Regions from separate parts of the Homo sapiens genome. Here region 2 is linked to region 1. The links come from fine-mapping of genetic effects on gene expression. Tissue or cell type: whole blood. Region 1 holds a variant in brackets; the other region holds the start of a gene. All regions are shown on one strand. Distances are from middle to middle.

The links. PIP is the estimated chance that this variant, and not a neighbour inherited with it, causes the effect.
Region 2: SV2A starts here. The variant in region 1 is fine-mapped to the expression of SV2A in whole blood (TOPMed, PIP above 0.99).

What each region holds. Positions count from the first base shown.
Region 1 is chr1:149,840,801-149,845,800 of GRCh38, forward strand. H3C14 (H3 clustered histone 14) reads right to left here and starts at 408. Exons shown (of 1, transcript NM_021059.3): 1 at 1-408. The coding sequence starts at 357. H2AC18 (H2A clustered histone 18) reads right to left here and starts at 1,950. Exons shown (of 1, transcript NM_003516.3): 1 at 1,418-1,950. The coding sequence starts at 1,898. The coding sequence ends at 1,506. It also overlaps the pseudogene H2BC19P and a transcript of H4C15 not described here. RefSeq lists enhancers at 1-249, 4,525-5,000. The variant A/G (reference allele first, on the strand shown) is at 2,956.
Region 2 is chr1:149,914,785-149,919,995 of GRCh38, forward strand. SV2A (synaptic vesicle glycoprotein 2A) reads right to left here and starts at 3,060. Exons shown (of 13, transcript NM_014849.5): 1 at 2,955-3,060. RefSeq lists a silencer at 2,904-2,973.

The DNA of each region.
Region 1 (5,000 bases):
GGTCACGCGCTTGGCGTGGATGGCGCACAGGTTCGTGTCTTCGAACAGCCCCACCAGGTAGGCCTCGCTGGCCTCCTGCAGCGCCATCACGGCCGAGCTCTGGAAGCGCAGGTCCGTCTTAAAGTCCTGCGCGATCTCGCGTACCAGCCGCTGGAAGGGCAGCTTGCGGATCAGCAGCTCCGTGGACTTCTGGTAGCGCCGGATCTCCCGCAGGGCTACGGTGCCGGGCCGGTAGCGGTGCGGCTTCTTCACCCCGCCCGTGGCCGGCGCGCTCTTGCGGGCCGCCTTGGTGGCCAGCTGCTTCCTCGGGGCCTTGCCGCCGGTCGACTTGCGAGCAGTCTGCTTAGTACGGGCCATAGCGAACCAAAACACAGGCTTACCAGCGCAGCGGCGGGGAGAAAAACGAGCTCCTAGCCCCGCCGCAGCCGTCTTTATAAGCACAGTCTTTTCCCGATTGGGCGGAACAATAATTGAAAATCCCGCGCTGGCTGTCCATTGGCTGTGACGTCACCCGTCCTAAAGTCACCGGTTGGCTTGGGCAGATTCCTCCCTAATCCCGCCCACCCCGCCTCACTTTCTACTTACCAGTTGGCGAAGTTTCGCAAGCTTGTTTTTCCCCTTTCCTTCAGGGTGAAAGTCATTTTCCATTGCAGCTTTGTCAGATTGTTCCCTTTCCGCCCTTCGCTTCCTTAGAACACACTGCCCGCAATACCCCCCCTTTCTTGCTGCGCCCTACAGCTCCCGCGTGGAACCTCATTCTTCCATTTGCCCCCCGCCCCCAGTTGCTACTTGGCGGATCGTTTTTCGCCTGTCGGGTGCCTTTTGGGTGGGAGAGGTGCCCGCCCCCAGGACGCAAGATTCCGCCTCCGAGGCCCTTACTCTCCGCCGCCAGGGCGCTTTGGAAAACAAAACAGAAACTAAGACTTAAGTCAGCTCAGTGAAGCCAAGACCCAGCTCCGCCACACTAGCGAGCACTACCCGCTCAGGGCCCTCCCCATCGGGGGTGGGGACGAGGAGCACGTCCCGCTGGTGCCAGACTAGGTCTAAGTGTCCGGCCATAGCCTGCGGAAACCACTAGGGAAGCGCGCGCTCCGCGCGCAACACTTCAGCGCGTTGGGTACTGCCCGCGGCGCTGGTGTTTGTGACTGTGTGGAGCGGACCGTGGCGGCGCCCAGGACGTTTGGTGCCTGCACCTGCCCTGGGAAGTCCTAGGACTGGGGACCCACTCATCGAAGAGCCAAGGCAGTTACGTGCTCCAGATGGAAGACGGCGCGCACACACACACACCCCGCCCCGCCCCGCCCCGTCCCGTCCCGTCCCGTCCCGTCCCGTCCCGTCAGCTCCAGGTTCGCTATTCACTACTGAGGAACGCTGGACTGAGAGTGGCCAGCATTAACAACTCTTTTATTTGAAAACGTGGGTGGCTCTGAAAAGAGCCTTTTGAGTTCACAGGTGCCCCTTCGAGACGCGGGCCGGGCTGGGCCCACTTGGGCCGGACGTCAGCCTCACTTGCCCTTTGCCTTGTGGTGACTCTCCGTCTTCTTAGGGAGCAGTACGGCCTGGATGTTAGGCAAGACGCCGCCCTGGGCGATGGTGACTTTGCCCAGCAGCTTGTTCAGTTCCTCGTCGTTGCGGATGGCCAGCTGGAGGTGACGAGGGATGATGCGCGTCTTCTTGTTGTCCCGAGCCGCGTTGCCCGCCAGCTCCAGGATCTCGGCGGTCAGATACTCGAGGACCGCAGCCATGTAGACGGGCGCGCCGGCCCCCACTCGCTCCGCGTAGTTGCCTTTGCGCAGCAAGCGATGCACTCGCCCTACCGGGAACTGAAGGCCAGCGCGGGACGAGCGCGACTTGGCCTTGGCGCGGGCCTTGCCTCCTTGCTTGCCACGACCAGACATGACAGCGATAGTAGTCACCGAGAGAAACTCCTGCCTGGCGATCGGGAAAGTCGCCGAAAACGCCGCTGCTTCACCTTTTTATAGACAGAACGGCGATTGTCCACGGAGCACTTTGATTGGCTCAAGCAAATTTTGTCCCGATAGCCAATAGGATAGCTCAGCCAGAATCCACTCATTTACATAATCTCGTCTCCCTCGCATTGCGCGCCGCGGAAAACTCGCGAACCATAACGCAGCGTCATGCGCACAGCCTCTGTAAGTACACAGTCGTTTCCGGTAGACCCCGAGCCTACCGCTCTGCTTGCGTTCTCGGGGGTCGGTGTCGGTCTTGGGTCTGGCCATGCCTGAGCCTGCAAAGTTCGCGCCGGCTCCCAAGAAGGGCTCCAAGAAAGCCGTCACCAAAGCCCAGAAGAAAGACGGCAAGAAGCGCAAGCGCAGCCGCAAGGAGAGCTACTCCATCTACGTGTACAAGGTGCTGAAGCGGGTCCACCCCGACACCGGCATCTGGTGCAAGGCCATGGGCATCATGAACTCCTTCCTCAACGACATCTTCGAGCGCATCGCGGGAGAGGCGTCCCGCCTGGCGCACTACAACAAGCGCTCCACCATCACGTCCCGGAGATCCAGACGGCCGTGCGCCTGCTGCTGCCCGGCGAGCTGGCCAAGCACGCCGTGTCCGAGGGCACCAAGGCGGTCACCAAGTACGCCAGCTCCAAGTGAGTCCCTGCCGGGACCTGGCGCTCGCTCGCTCCCTCCCTCCCTCCCTCCGCGGGTCGCCGGCTGCTTTGTCTCCAAAGGCTCTTTTCAGGGCCACTTAACCCCGTTAGTGAAATAAGCTGTTTTCCCACTGCTTACTGTGAGTTCTACTTAGGGGTTTTCCCTCAGCACCTATCCCTTTTCCTGCAGATGATGGGAGAGGAATATAAGATAAAGCTATAAGATGTAGCTTGGTCGAGAACTACCTTGTAGTGACAGGGTCATGTGCACATAATTTGCCTTTTCCAAAGTGAGACGATATGCTACGGGTGCGGTCAATGTAAATCTGCTCAGGAGAGTC[A/G]AGGGAAAAAGTGTTAACTGCATATTGAGCTCGCAAAATTGTGTAGTAACCTGAAAATATTCCTAATAGTTTTGCGACCAAGCCTCACCATATAAACTTTCCTTCCGCACCTGTAGACCTCCATTCTGTGGTTGAAGCAATTTTTGGTTTATATAGCTCTCTTGTCTCAATTTGGTATTCCTTTCAGGTACTGTGAGTCTATAGGTATTTATTTCTGGGTTTCAAGACGTTAAATGCCATCAGAATTGAGTAATGCAAAGGCTGCTGTCATGGATAGTAAAGCTTTTTAGTCAAGTGCTGATAGACAATTCCCCATTGTTATCGTTGGGTATTTTACAATTTTCTGGGCAAGAAATGTAATGAAAAATTAAGTAAGTTTTAAAGGCCTTCGTCTTTGAGACTGGATACCTAAAACAATAGTGTTTCCTAAACAGTTAAAACTTATTTAACCCTGAAGCTTTCGAGACACACAAATATATACAAATATATATTGTATATTTCTTAAACCCCACATAGTTCCACTGATCTAAATCACTGGGGGCGAGAGGCAAGGATAGACAATCTATGACACAACACCAGGTGATTCATAAGTTTGGTAACCACTGACATTTGATTATGCAGTTGCCATATTCCTTAGTAAGAACCTGGTCACAATTTTCACTCACTACCCCAGGCAATTCCCCCTCCCCACACCCCCCTTTTTTCTGAGAATTTCAGTGAGATATACAAAAGTTTCATTTAATCCTTTATTAATTCCAGACTTTATATATTTTTATTAGGATTTAAAATACATTTCAAAAAGATCAAGTGAGAACAGAAGATAAAAGTACCAAGATAAAGGCATAATACAAACTTAGAAAATACATGTTAAGCATACTGCGGCGTCCTGGTAGCCCCTTGCTTTTGTTCACTTTTTTCTCTTATGTACCTACATAAAATCCCAAATAGTATCTTCCAGGATGACACACTTGCTGTCTGCCCCACCCAATTAAAAACAGATTTTTTAGTTATTAGGTATTGTGCTGAATCTACCTTATTTTATTGCCAAAAGAAAAAAAAAAAAAAGCTTTTCAAAGCTTCATCCCCAGGAAACATTTTCCTGCTTTTACACATACCTTATATGGCTCTACTGAGAGATAAGGCCTAAGCCTGAAAAGTTAATTTAAAGCATGGAGGTAGGGGTGAGACAGAAAGACAACAGGGAAAAGTTGAGTTTATAAGGTAAGTATATATCTTCCTTTTAACAGCCACCTGCATGGCGTTCGGTAAATAACCTAATTATATGTGGGGGAAGGTAGTGGTCAACATTTGGTCCTGGGGACTGAGAATAAGAGCAGGAAAGCAATAAACAGCTAACTATGAGAGTGACTTAATGTAATTATATTACCTGTCAATCGCTACTTTTCCTTTCTTACCAAAATTCACACAGGTATGAAAGCAATATGACATTCAGGCTCCATTATGTGTATTTGTGCACATCACTTCCCACGATAAGGGAGAAGAAAAGAAACCACTGCACATTCGGATAAAACATGCTGGGAATACAGCAGTAAACAGAATAGAAAAAGTCTACATTTTAATTAGCAGATAAGTAAAAATAAGTGACTAAATGTATATTATTCAGGGGGCCATATGTGCAATTGCTGTTAAGTAAAGCAGAACATGGAGTGGAGTAGGGATGACAGGTTTCATCAGTTAATACTTGAGCAGAGAGCTGAATACAGTAAGATAGTTGTAGGATATCTTGAGGCAGAGTATTCTCAGAACAGAACATGGTAAGTACAAAGGCCCCAAGGCAGGAACAAGCTTGGTGAATGTGAGAAATATGCAAGCTGGTTAATGTGGCTGAAGCACAGTGACCAAGGGAAAGTTTTACAGAGATCACGGAGGTGCTTGAGGGCTGGATTATGTAGGCCATTAAGGAGCATCACAGGCCACTGCAGAGATTTTGTCTTTTAAATGAGATAGAGTGCTCTTGGAGAATGTGACTGGAGAGGCCGATGGTAGCAGTGGAGATGCAGAGTAGTAGCCGAGATATTTTAAAT
Region 2 (5,211 bases), 74 kb after region 1:
CCTCAGTTTCTTCTTGTTTAAAAAGGGGAAAGTAAGGGTCGAATGATATAATGTATCTATGCTCCTTACCATAAGTCACCTGGCACATAAAAATGATGAATAAATATTAATTATTAATTTTGTGGTGACAGTAATATAGTGAAATGCCCTATACTACCTCATAAGGTCCCCAGATGAAAGCTATCTTGGATGCTCTTTAGGGTGAGCAGCAGGAAGGGACACTGGCAAGGAGAATCCTGGTTCAGGGCAAAGCACATGACTGTTAGGGGTGACCTAAGTTGAAATCCCAACTCTGCCACTTACTAACTGATCTCAGTCAGGGTAGTTAACCTCCCTAAGCCTCAGTGTCCATCTATTTTAACTGGGGATAATTAAATTGGGAGACTGTTTCTTGGAGTTGATGTGAGAATGTAATCTCACAGTAGATACTCTATGTTAGTTTTCTTCCTTCCTATGATGTTGAAAGTGGGAAAGAAACAGGAAGCAGCAAGGGACAACAGGGGGGTCATACTTAGATGCTGTTGCCCAGCATCCTTGCAAACAGAGTCCCAAGACACCCCTATCTATGTTTCAACTAATTCCAGTAGCTGGGCCCACATTAACTACCTCCAGAAGAACAAGGGAAGATCCAGAAAAGGGGGACCTGGAACCCAAGTAAAGTGGAGGAAAGATGGAAAGCTAAGAAAGAGGTGATGACTGTCCACTGCCACCTTGCTTCAGAATGTCATAGATAGGCCCCCTTTCCACAGATGGGGGTGAGAATGGAAATGACTGTCAAATGCATACATTTCCAACATGAGGTTCTAAGGCCTACAGTTGCATCCCATCCCTCCAGGGCCTCCCTTCCTAATCCCCCTTAATCCTTTCTGCTCCTCCTCCAGGAGTCAAGGAAGAAGGAGTCCACAAACACCGCATTGCGTAGGAGGCGGATGTAGAATAAAGGGGGTTTGGGTGTCCCCCCAAAAAAGACATTCTCCAGAGGAAGGCATGGGATAGCCCCCTTCCTTCATAGGAGCAGAGGAAGCAGGCCTAGATTCTGATCAGAAATCATCCCCCTAAAAATATCCTGCCTCCGGTGCTCCCACCCATCCAGGGCCTTCATTAAAACACACACACACACACACACACGCACACACACACACACGCCCTGGTAGAAGACGGTAAGCAATGCTATGTGGTTCAGAGAGAAGCACTGGCAAGCAGCGCCTTATCCCCTCAGGACAGATGTAAGCAGTGGACCACGGTGACCAGAAGCAGTGACCCCTATGTCACCTTTTCTTCATGGTTCAGGGCCCAACCATCCCCCATGAAAGAGCTGGAACTGCGGAATCCCCTCAGCGCATGGCAATTTGCTAGCTTTCCTCTCTTTCCTAACCAGGATCTCCCCTCCAGCCCTGAAGGAGGCAGGACCCACCAGGAGCCATACTCTATGTTTGTTGACCCTATTTCCCCCTGAGAGGGGCACGTAGGGCAGGGAAGCCTTCCACAACCACAGCAGGATATGAGGTCTCAACAGCCAGCTTCCTCAGGGCCAGCAAGCCCAGGAGGTCAGGAGAGAAAGAAAGAAGACAAATTCTTTGAGCTGGTGAGGAAGTGGTGCTATTTTTAGCCCCCAAAACAGCACAGGGTGGCTAAGCCTGGGGGAGTGAGACAAGACTTGGAGAGGTGGAGGTTAAAGGAGACAAGGTTCAGGGTTACAAGGTCCTAGGCTGGCTGACTTCACCTGACAGGAAAAAATGTGCCCAGGAGATTTTCTGCAGAGGGTGGAGACAGGCAGGGGACTCCAGAGCAAATGCTTTCTTTCAGAACAGCTCATCCAGCCCTGGGTCCAGAACCCCCCACCCTCCCAGTCAAAGCCCCTGACTTTGGGGTCCACCCAGATCCCCAGGCCTTCCTAGCTCAGGTGACAAGGTCATTAAAAAGCAATCACTTATCAAAACGTCCGCGGGGGCGGGGGTAGAATGTGGGAGGTGCGGGAGCACCCCTTCCCCATGACAGCCCGGTCATCGAACTTCAGCCCCCACCCAGGACCATCAAGACTGCGCCTCCCCTCCCCACATCCTACCAAGGTTAGGAAGATAGGAGCACCCACAGTTCTGAGGGATAAAAATGAGGGTGTCAGCTGAGAATGCACACTGAGGAATACGGAGAGGCAGAGAGGGGGACGCAGGGAGAGACCTCCGCATGCACAGACATAGAGACCGCCCCTATCAGCATTTGCAGCGACCCCCCCACACCCCATCTTGCCTCAGCTCCGGAATAAGGGAAAAGCCCCCAGAACTGACTAAATCCCTGCTCTGAGCACCTCCTCCACCCTTGGTCCTGCTGCTAGACAAGTGTCCACCTTCACTCAACATCCCTTCCCCCCACCCCGGAGCAACTGCCGCCAGCCCCCGCCATCCATGCCCCCAACACCTGGCGGCTCTACATCTCTGTCTCCCCAGTATTTCCATTCTTCACTCCCCTTCCCTCCATCCTTCACCTGCCCTTCTTCCCCTGCCCCCCACCCACCCAAGTCCAGGCGTGCACACTGAGGCAGCATCCATTCTCCAGCCCCAGCCAAGGTCATTTATCATTCATCCTGGGGGTGGGGGGACGTCAAGGTGAGGAGGGGATAGGAGTTTGAGGGAACCTCATCCCACCTCACAACCCCACCACCACGTTAATCTCCGAAGGGGATAGTGGGGACTTGGTTAAGGTAGAGAAAAACACCCCTCCTCCCCATTCACCAATATTATACATATGCGTGTGTGTGTGTGTGTCCTGAAGAGCACAACTGAAATAAATGTCCATCCCCAAACCACCACCAACCCACCAACCCCCCTCACCCCTAGAGAGGGGATCGTCACCCTCCCCATAAGCAAAGCATCGGAGGATAAAATGGCTGCAAGGCAAGGCAAAGATGCTTCTGCCAGGGGCGGGGAGGAGGTGAGCGACTGAGAAAGGGGTCTCACCTGGTCTAGGTTCCCCGGGTAAGGAGTCCCGGGCGAGGACGGGGGTCCCGGCCGCGGGCGGAGGCGGCAGCGGCGACTGCTCCCGGCACCAGGGAAGCGGCAATGCAGACCTGCCACCCCCCTTCCACCACTCCAGCCCCGCCTCCGCCCCCCCCTACCCCGCGCCACTGAGCATCGGGAGAGACCATTGGTGGGGAGAGGAGAAAAGAGGATGGGGAGGGAGTCAGGGCACGGGGAGAAATGATGAAAGGGCCGGAGGTTGTCACAAGAACAGCTGGAAATGGCACCCAGCCCTTCCCAGGCCCTTCCTAGTAAAAGATAGAAGGAACTAAAGAAAAAAACAGTGATGTTAGGAAGACAAGTGGGAAGACAGGGAGATGGGGAATGTGGCAGCCCCTTCCTTAGCACCCCAGTCTCAGTATGGCAGGACCCAATAATTTCAGGGGCTTTTGCTGCCTTCAAAACACCTCCCTTGCCTTCTCCACTGCTCTCAAACTCCTTTTTCACAACAGTCTCCCAAATCCAGAGTGCTCCTATTCCAAGTTTACCTGGACATTTTAGAGAAAGCAGAGATAACAAGGTGTGGTTTCTATCCTGAACTGCCAGAGTCAGAGACCCCTGGATTCCTTCCATCTCTTTCCTCACAAAACAGTCCAGGTTACTTATTTACAGTGGACACCTCCTCATCCTGTCCATTCAGTTGGTGGTAGCAGAAGTACTGGGGAAGTTGAGGGATTTTTACAGACCTGACCAACCGGACAGTTCCCCTTCCATTAATTTGCTCCAATGACTCAAAAAGGATCCTCTCAATACCCTTCTCCATTTTCTCTTACTCTCCTCTACCTCCCTCCCCTCCCCTCCACACACTTGTACTTCCCGGGCAGGAAGAAGTAAATTGTTTCAGCTTTTCCCTTCATCTTTCCTTTGCTCTTGCATCAATAACCTGGACTCAGAGATCCAAGACATGCCACTTGGTGACACTTGATGACCATCCCTGCCGAAGGAGTGAGAGGGAATATGGTGATTTGGGGAAATACATCCTGAATGTGTCTATGCCAGATAAGGTCAGGACCTTCCAGACAGCACTGACCTGGGCTTGGACCTGGGTTCTCACTGCTAACAAGCTGTCAACTCTTGGTCAAGTTCTCCACATCTGTGAACTTCAGGTTTCTCATCTGGAAAAGGGGGGCTTGGACTAGATACTGCATCAGGTCCCTCTCAGATCTAATAGCGTGTGATTCTGCCTTACTAAATGTGGAGGCTTCAGAATGCTGATATATATACATGGAGAAGGCTGACAGGCTATGTCCGAAGAGACCACACAGGTAACATTTGCCAGGTTGAATTTACCTCTGACAGGGACACGGGCCTGGGCTTTGCAGACTCCAAAGCTGGATCTTGGAAATAATCATTCATGCCAACAAAGTTCACAATCTTCTGAAATATAAAGCCATAATACATAAATATTAATTTATCATAAATATTTAACTGTCACTCAGACTGAAAACTCATATCTACATGTCTAGTACATTCTCTCCCTGAAGCCAAATCAGAATCATAATGTCAATGTATAAATGCACAATGACATTACTGGAGGATTTGTATCTTTAATGGCATCTGGCCATCTGCAATAAGCAGCCATGCCAATGGGTCCAGAAAACTCTTCTTGGCAACAATCTTCTACCCCCACCTCTTTGCTATTGGCAGCCTTGCCAGCACTCCTGGACTACTCTGAATGTGACGGCTTTCCAGGATGGTGCTTGGACTGGCCTCAGGGACTCTCCCTTTACTAGACTTTCATTGCTGACCCGTCTTCAGGTTAACACACATTCTTTTTCTTTTTTTTTTTTTTTTTGAGACAGAGTCTCACTCTGTCGCCCAGGCTGGAGTGCAGTGGCGCAATCTCAGCTCACTGTAACCTCCACCTCCGGTGTTCAAGTGATTCTCCTGCCTCAGCCTTCCCAGTAGCTGGGACTACAGGCACGAGCCACCACACCCAGTTAACTTTTTTTTTTTTTTTTGAGACAGAGTCTTGCTCCGTCGCCCAGGCTGGAGTGCAGTGGCACAATCTCGGCTCACTGCAAGCTCCGCCTCCCGGGTTCATGCCATTCTCCTGCCTCAGCCTCCCGAGTAGCTGGGACTACAGGTGCCCGCCACCACACCCGGCTAATTTTTTGTATTTTTAGGAGAGACGGGGTTTCACTGTGTTAGCCAGGATGGTCTCGATCTCCTGACCTTGTGATCCGCCCGCCTCAGC